Homo sapiens: one gene and its partner. The protein of the gene in region 2 purifies or fractionates together with the protein of the main gene of each other region. This does not show direct contact. Each region holds a gene or a part of one and is shown on either strand. Other genes may lie near its edges.

Region 1 (3,816 bases), on a different chromosome or scaffold from region 2:
ATTGTTTGCTGAGAACTATAGTCACTGTTTGAAATGGACTCTCTTGGCAGCTGTTGTTATAATTATTATTGGAAATTATAGATAAAAACAAAATCCTTGTTTAGGCCAGGCGTGGTGGCTCATGCCTATAATCCCAGCACTTCGGGAGGCCAAGGCAGGCAGATCACCTGAGTTCAGGAGTTCAAGACCAGCCTGGTCAATATGGCAAAACCCCGTCTCTACTAAAAATACAAAAAAAATTAGCCAGACATGGTGGCGTGCACCTGTAGTCCCAGCTACTTGGGAGTCTGAGTCAGAAAAATCACTTGAACCCAGGAAGCAGAGGTTGCAGTGAGCCAAGATTGTGCCACTGCACTCCAGCCTGGGTGATAGAGTGAGACTCCATCTGAAAATAAATAAATAAATAAATAAAAATAAAGAAAAAAGAAAAATGCTTGTTTAGAAGTGAAGAAGGGAAAGATTAGGTCTGCCACCAGCTGAGAGCCAGACTCTGATCTGGACCTCAGCGTCCTTGCTCATCAGACCCCAAGTCCTCGGAGAACAACAGCACCTAAGGAGGGTGCCTGACTTTGAAGACTGGGAGGAGAACTGGGCCATTCTTCCTTCAGGGACAACCTCCACACTGCTATTCTCAACAGTTCCTTCACCAGGCCTGGCCGCCCCCTTGTTTCCTTCCTGACTTCCTCTCTGCATACTGTGGACCTTATAGGAAAGGGGCCCTGGTCAGCTGGCTAGGAGGCAGGGAGGAGCTGAGCAGAAGGCCCCGACAGCTGCGGTAAGTCTGTGTGATCCCTGGCTGCTATCCTTCCCTCTGATACTGTGTCCCCACACCTCCCCAGGGCAGAGGAAGTGCCCTGACCCTTTCCCTCCATCCAAATGATGAAGGCTTAGGGCCCAGCTGCTCTCCACTCTGTCCAATTGTTGTTTGATCACAAGGCCTCCCATCCAGGCCTTCCTTCACTCCACCTACCTTCTCCATGCTACCGATGTCACAAGTGATCCCTCTGAGGACCAGATCCAGCTCAGGTCGGTACCGCACTTGGTAGTTGTTAAACTGGATCTTGCCTTTGCTGGGCCAATCTGGCGGAGGCCTCTTATCAGTCACCCAGGGTGCCTGGCAAGGAGACAAGATGAGAAGTAAGTTTTATAAGGTGGCAACTCAGCCGAACAGTCCACCCAGGACTCGTGTCATAGAACAGGAGAAGGGTAGCAGTGTCCCAGCTACCTAATGGCCTCTGCATTTAATAGGCTGAACTAGACTTGCACTTTTGGAAAGTTCCTACCTTATTCAGTTAAAGAAAAATACACCATGAGCTTGTGCTGTAGATCTCCTCGGTATGTTGCAAGACCCGACATCCCCTAAACCATTTCCTATTCTAAGTTTGAAGAAATTAGGTCCTTTGAGTTAGAGGAAAGGAAACTTTAGGGACCCATTATGGGCCCATGTAAAATATGGAGAAATTCTAAAGATGCACTCTCGAAGGAGTTGCATGTTGTTTTTGCCTTGTTCCTGGATTTTTCCAGTTCCTCCTTACCTCATTTTCCACTTTTGTGTACTCAGTTATTCGCTCAACAGCCACAATGTTGGTCTCTATTTCTGATGTCATCCTCACCAGCCAGTTCAGGGTTTGTGTGATCTACAGAAAAACCAGAAGACTGAAAATCATCATAGGCACAGAAACCAACTCAACCACTCAAACCACAAGGACAATCCAGTGCCGACTTTGTACCCAGCACTGTGCTGGACTCTACAAGGGAGTAAGGAAAAGTGTAAGAAAGACAATCCTTGCCTCCTTGGGGAAGGAATTAAGAGCAGTGCATTGAATGGCTGCAGACTAATTAGGTGCTCACGCGAAGGGCAATGTGAGTGTCTAGTGGTTTGGGACTAAAGCTGGAATTTGAGAGTCTGGCAATGGGTGGAGTGGGAGCAGAGCTCAGGCCTCCTGCCTGGATGCCTAGTGTTCTTTGTGAATCAGGGAAAGGCATGATCCAGGCCAGGGAATCTGTAGATTACTCAGATGCAAACTTCTTTCAGAAAAAGACTCAGGAGTTTGCATATATGCACAGAGAGTTCTTGTTGAGCAAATGGTGGTTAAAGAAAGGGAGCCACAGAAAGCAGAGGACGGAATCATGGGGACTCAGAGTATCCACTTTGTGTAGATTGAAGCATATGTAATTGCCGGTGTTTGAGTCATTTTGTTTTGGTTCAATCTAATAGTTTCCTGACTATTTGCCTTGTCTGTCCTGGGCTAAAAAGCCTAGAAATGGGGGTATGAAAGGGCAGTGACACAAGGAACTAAGTGACTCTAGTGAATAACAAAGTCCTTTTAGGTGCCCTGGCAGGAACACATTGGGCCTTATTAACTTCTTTTTTTTTTTTTTTGAGATGGAATCTTGCTCTGTTGCCCAGGCTGGAGTGCAATGGCACGATCTTGGCTCACTACAACCTCTGCCTCCTGGGTTCAAGTGATTCTCCTGCCTCAGCCTCCCCAGTAGCTGGGATTACAGACACTCATCACCATGCCTGGCTAATTTTTTTTGTATTTTTAGTAGAGATGGGGTTTCACCATGTTGGCCAGGCTGGTCTCAAACTCCTGACCTCAGGTGATCCACCCACTTTGGCCTCCCAAAGTGCTGGGATTACAGGTGTCAGCCACTGTGCTCCACAGGCCTTATTAACTTCTAATGAAGACAGCACTATTATATAATGCCCACATGTAACTATGCAAATCTCTTTGAACTAAAAAAATTAGTTCAAAAAGATGGTCAAATGACTCATTTATAACAAATATTGATTGAATAATTACGGTAGTGCCAGCCACTGTCTTAGGTGCTAGAAAAGAATCATGCCTGCCATGTATCCTCTAGTCATGCTGGGGATGCTGCAGTGAGACACATTCTATAGTTTTATCAGACTCTATGTTCTTTATTAGAATTACCTCCAATTATTCTACGATCTAAGAAAAATAAACACAGGAGGAATTATTTGTTCAAAAAGCCTTTCTGATTACTGCTACGTTCTAGAGAAGAAAGTTATTTATTCTCTCACTAGAACCAAGCAAAGAGGCAGACAGGGAACAATTAGATTGAAACATATGAAATTGCCTTCTTAAGCCCTAAGGTCAATATTTATGTCCAGTTTTCTAGATGGCATTCATGTCTACTTAGGAAGAGTAAGGAATACGTCCATGGGTAAAAGATGGAGCCAGGGTTTGAACCTCAGTCTTCTTTAGTCCCTCTGGGTTTAAGAAGGAATCAAGAGCACAGACTCCACAGTATACATCAGGCTTAATTTAAGAATAAGCACACTAACGAAACCAAACTCCCAACCTTCAAACTCACATTGAGTGCATTGGACAGAACAAAGCCAACAGTGTCCCCACTTAGGGTATCTCTATAAATAACCATCATCAAGGCTGAAAAGAAGACAGTCAGGTTCCCAACCAGCTCCAGGCGAATTGCAAGCCACCTGTGGGGCAACAGAACCAGAGAGTGCGTGTCACTGATCACGTCCTCATCTTAACCAGCAACCTTGGCGTTCACAGAACATTCTCAGAGGGTTTGACTTGATCGGGCCGCACTCTTAGGCAATGCCTCAATTTGACTTAGAAACACCATGTATTCCTAAAAGCCTATTGATATATTTTTTAAGAAAATAAATTGCATTTTAAAGATCCTAGAGGTCTTTGCTGAACTAAGGGAATCCTACAGTGCAATGTCTACCAAACTCGCCAAATCATAAGAATCACCTAGGGCAACTGTTAATATACAATGTTACAAATTCATGTGGAAAATTCCTGGACCCTTTCCTTTAAG
Region 2 (3,916 bases):
AATCGGGAGGCTGAGGCAGGAGAATGGCTTGAATCTGGGAGGCAGAGGTTGCAGGGAGCCGAGATCGCACTGCTTCACTCCAGCCTGGGCAACAGAGCGAGACTCCGTTTAAAAAAAAAGAAAAGAAATTTCTTCCGCCAGACACCCTGGCGTGGTATCTCTAGGGCATGGACAGAATGCAGCCACGTTGTTTGCTAAGGCGTAACAAAGGTGGCTTTCGCTCTAGTTCCAAGTAAGATCCTTATTTCCAGCTGAGACCTTGTCAGCCTGGACTTCGCTGTTCACATCACTATCAGCATTTTGGTCACAACCATTTAATCCATCTCTAAGAAGTTTCAAACATTCCCTTCTCTTCCTGTCTTCCTCCGGGCCCTCCAAATAACATGAGGTCTATTCCGTTAACAAATTTCAAGTGAACAAGACGTTATTGCTGACGATGGGTCGTATGTGGTGCAGCAGATCTCTAGGCCTGTTTGTTAATAACTCCCCATTTCCCCCTCCTCCCAGCCCCCGTAACCACCATTCCCTGCTGTGATGTTGTGACTCTGGTGACTTTGCAGATCTCCTGTAAGTGACATCATGCAGTACTTGGTCTCTGCCTCTGCGTCGCTTGGCGTGATGTCCTCAGGTTTCGTCCGTGTTGTCGCCCATGGCAGAATTTTCTTCCTTGTTTAAGGCTGAATAGTATTCCCCTGTGTGTGCACCACATTTTCTATATCAATTATTCTATCAATGGACATTTAGATGGTTTTCACGTCTTAGCTATTGCGAATAGTGCTGCAGTGATCAGGGGAGTTCAGACGGCTCTTTGACATACTGATTTTTTTTTTTTTTTTAGACAGAGTCTTGCTGTTGTTGCCCAGGCTGGAGGGCAATGGTGCAATCTCAGCTCACTGCAACCCCTGCCTTCTGGGTTCAAGCGATTCTCCTGCCTCAACCTTCCAAGTAGCTGTGCCCACCACCACACCCAGCTAATTTTTTGTATTTTTAGTAGAGACAGGGTTTCACTATGTTGGCCAGGCTGGTCTCGAATTTATGGCCTCAGGTGATCCACCCACCCCGGCCTCCCGAAGTGCTGGGATTACAGCTGTGAGCCACTGCGCCTGGCCTGTTTCTTTTAAATACAGACCCAGAAGTGGGATTGCTGGACCATATGGTAGCTCTATTTTTAATTTTTTGAGGAACCTCCCCACTGTTCTCTATAGTGATTGCCCAATTTTTAATTCCTACTGTGGTATGCGAGGGATCCAGTTTCTCCACATCCTCACCAATAGTCTCCTTAAAAAAATAATATGCTTTGTAGGATATTTTTAACGTGTTAAATACCTTGTCGGGATTTTAGCATAGATCACAATATTAAAAACTTGGGGAAGGATTTCTATGGCTCCCATTTGTAATACAAGGAAATGTCAGCTTCTAGTTTTGTAACGTCTTGCCCAAGAGCTGCGACCGTTAACTTGTGGAGTTGGGACGGCGTCCAAGTCAATTGGTTGCCCGACCTTTATTCTGCCTTGTCCCATAGATTTAGAAAGAGGCTGACACATCTGGTAACTAGTTTACGGTCATCTGCCTCTAAGCGACATTTAGGGTAAGCGACATTTTTCAGAAACCAAGGCCCTCCCTCTCGTCTCACTAGTGGGAAGGGTGGAAAGAACAGGACAGAAAGCTCTTCCTCTTGTGTGAGGCAGTTGCTGTGGAAGCCCCATAGGCAGGAGGCCCCCGGGCAGCACATCCTGTCTGCTTGTGTCTGCTGCAGAGTTCTGTCCTTGCATTGGTGCGCCTCAGGCCAGGCTGCACTGCTGGGACCTGGGCCATGTCTCCCCACCCCACCGCCCTCCTGGGCCTAGGTGAGTCCTGGAGGCAGCCGGGAGGCTGGAAAGGGGGTCGGGAGGTCTGGAAAATTCCCTGCTCAAGCCTGACTCTAGTCCAGAAGATTCTGGGGAGGAAAGTGTCCTCCTCCTCCCAAGACTGCCCTGCTGCTCTCCCTGGGGCCTAAGTCTGATCAGAGAAGATCTTGTCCTAAAAACAGGGGCCCGGGTGTGGGGATGAGGTCAGCTTTAAGAAGGGCTGGGGGAGCAGGAGCCTTTTTGGAGGAGGAGACTTTGGGATTTATCTTGAAACCATTTTGCAGCAAGAAGGATTACATGGAGACAGTGATGTCGAGGAGGGTTGGCTTGGTCGTTATGAAATGCTGAATGCCCCCCAGCTCCATCGAGCCCCCTTTTGACAGCAGCCCCGTAAGGAGACTGGGCACTGGGCATTTTTCTCACTGGGGCTTCTCTTCCAGTGCTCTGCCTGGCCCAGACCATCCACACGCAGGAGGGTAAGTCATGCCTTCGTCCCATCTTCCCAGTCCCCTCTGTCACCCCAAGGGCAGTGCTGGGTGGGAGTGATGTTGATTCTTAGAGGGCCTGGAGAGATCCCTTTAAATATACCCTAGATTGCAAACTCTTCCAAATGTAAAATGCATAACCAACCCTCACCCAGTTCTCTCTCGCATCCTCCACCTGTCTTATTTTGCTTTTCTTATTTTCAAAAATTTTATTTTTAATTGACAAATAATTGCAATTTGCGGGGTACAGTGTGATATTATGACGTATGTACACATTGTGGAAAGATTAAATAAAGCTGATTAACATATCAGCCCCATCACATACTTATTGTGATGAGAATATTTTAAATCTCCTTTTAGCAATTTTGAAATATACAATAAATTATTATGAACTACTGTCATTCTGCTGTGCCATAGATCTGAAAAATTCACTCGTCCTGGCTACTCGAAACTTTGTATCATTTGATCAGTGTCTCTCCCATGCCCCGCACCTGCAGCCTCCAATAACCACCATTCTACTCTGCTTCCGGGTGATCAACTTTTCTTAGATTCCACAGATAAGTGAGAACGCGCAGTAATTGTCTTTCTGTGCCCGGCTTATTTCACTTAGCCTAACGTCCTCTGGTTCATCCATGTTGTTGCGAATGACAGAATGTCCTTCCTTTTTTAGGGCTGAATAATATTCCATTGCATATACACAGCACATTCTCCTCATCCATTCATTTGGCGGTGGGCACTCAGGTTCTTGCCAGGTCTTGGCGGCTGTGAGTAGTGCTGCGGTCACCCTGGGAGTGCAGGCGTCAGCTCCGCACACCGATTTCCACAATGAGAATTCAAACCCAACACAACCAAGGCTGAGCCCGGCACTTTTCCCCAGACGAGCCCACACTTCACTCGGCAGCTTCTTGGCGGGGAACATGACAGTCACAAAGGGCAGACTCTGAACACTCATCCTCTTCTCCATCCTCCTGGATGCACCATGTCACCCAGTCCTGGTGATTTCACTCTAAATTTTTCTCATCTTTCCCTCTCTCTTCATCGACTTTTCCTGCATCACCCCCAGGTGACAGCCCCTCTCCCCTCCGTGGCTCCCCGAGGCCGGCCTCAGCCTGTCCATGCCACTGCTGCCTGCTCCCTTCCTGACCCCAGGGACTGGCGATTTGCAAAAGCACAACCATGACCATTGTACTTTCCACAGTTTTTAAATTGTATTCAAAAATTTTCATTTAATATCTCATCGTAAGATGAAATCTTTTTTTTTTTTTCTCAGAGCCCTTCCCCTGTTTATCTTCAGATAGAATCAGACCTGTGCACCTCTCTTTGGTCTGGACATGCCCATTTTCCCAGCCACATCCTGTCCCTGTGACCTGGGGCTCACTCATCTCTACATTCCTCCAGGTTCTTTCGCTTTCTCAAACACTCCATATGCCGCTCAATATGGTGGTTCTTCTCACATGCTGATTTTGAAAAAAAATAATTCATTTTAAAAATGACCAATGAGGCTGGGTGCGGTGGCTCACATCTGTAATCCCAGCACTTTGGGAGGCGGAGGTGGGTGGATCACTTGAGGTCAGAAGTTTGAGA

What was found.
Region 1: the proteins of LAIR1 (region 2) and ABCC2 purify together in Homo sapiens (affinity purification with mass spectrometry; one large-scale study listed by BioGRID and IntAct). This does not show direct contact.

Annotation. Positions count from the first base shown.
Region 1 is NC_000010.11:99,841,620-99,845,435, reverse strand, and holds part of ABCC2 (ATP-binding cassette sub-family C member 2), read right to left. Parts: intron 3,470-3,816; coding exon 3,343-3,469; intron 1,638-3,342; coding exon 1,536-1,637; intron 1,115-1,535; coding exon 971-1,114; intron 1-970. UniProt on the Homo sapiens protein: ATP-dependent transporter of the ATP-binding cassette (ABC) family that binds and hydrolyzes ATP to enable active transport of various substrates including many drugs, toxicants and endogenous compound across cell membranes.
Region 2 is NC_000019.10:54,362,702-54,366,617, reverse strand, and holds the start of LAIR1 (leukocyte-associated immunoglobulin-like receptor 1 isoform a precursor), read left to right. Parts: upstream 1-1,686; 5' UTR 1,687-1,813; coding exon 1,814-1,847; intron 1,848-2,131; exon of another isoform or gene 2,132-2,287; coding exon 2,288-2,323; intron 2,324-3,916. UniProt on the Homo sapiens protein: Functions as an inhibitory receptor that plays a constitutive negative regulatory role on cytolytic function of natural killer (NK) cells, B-cells and T-cells.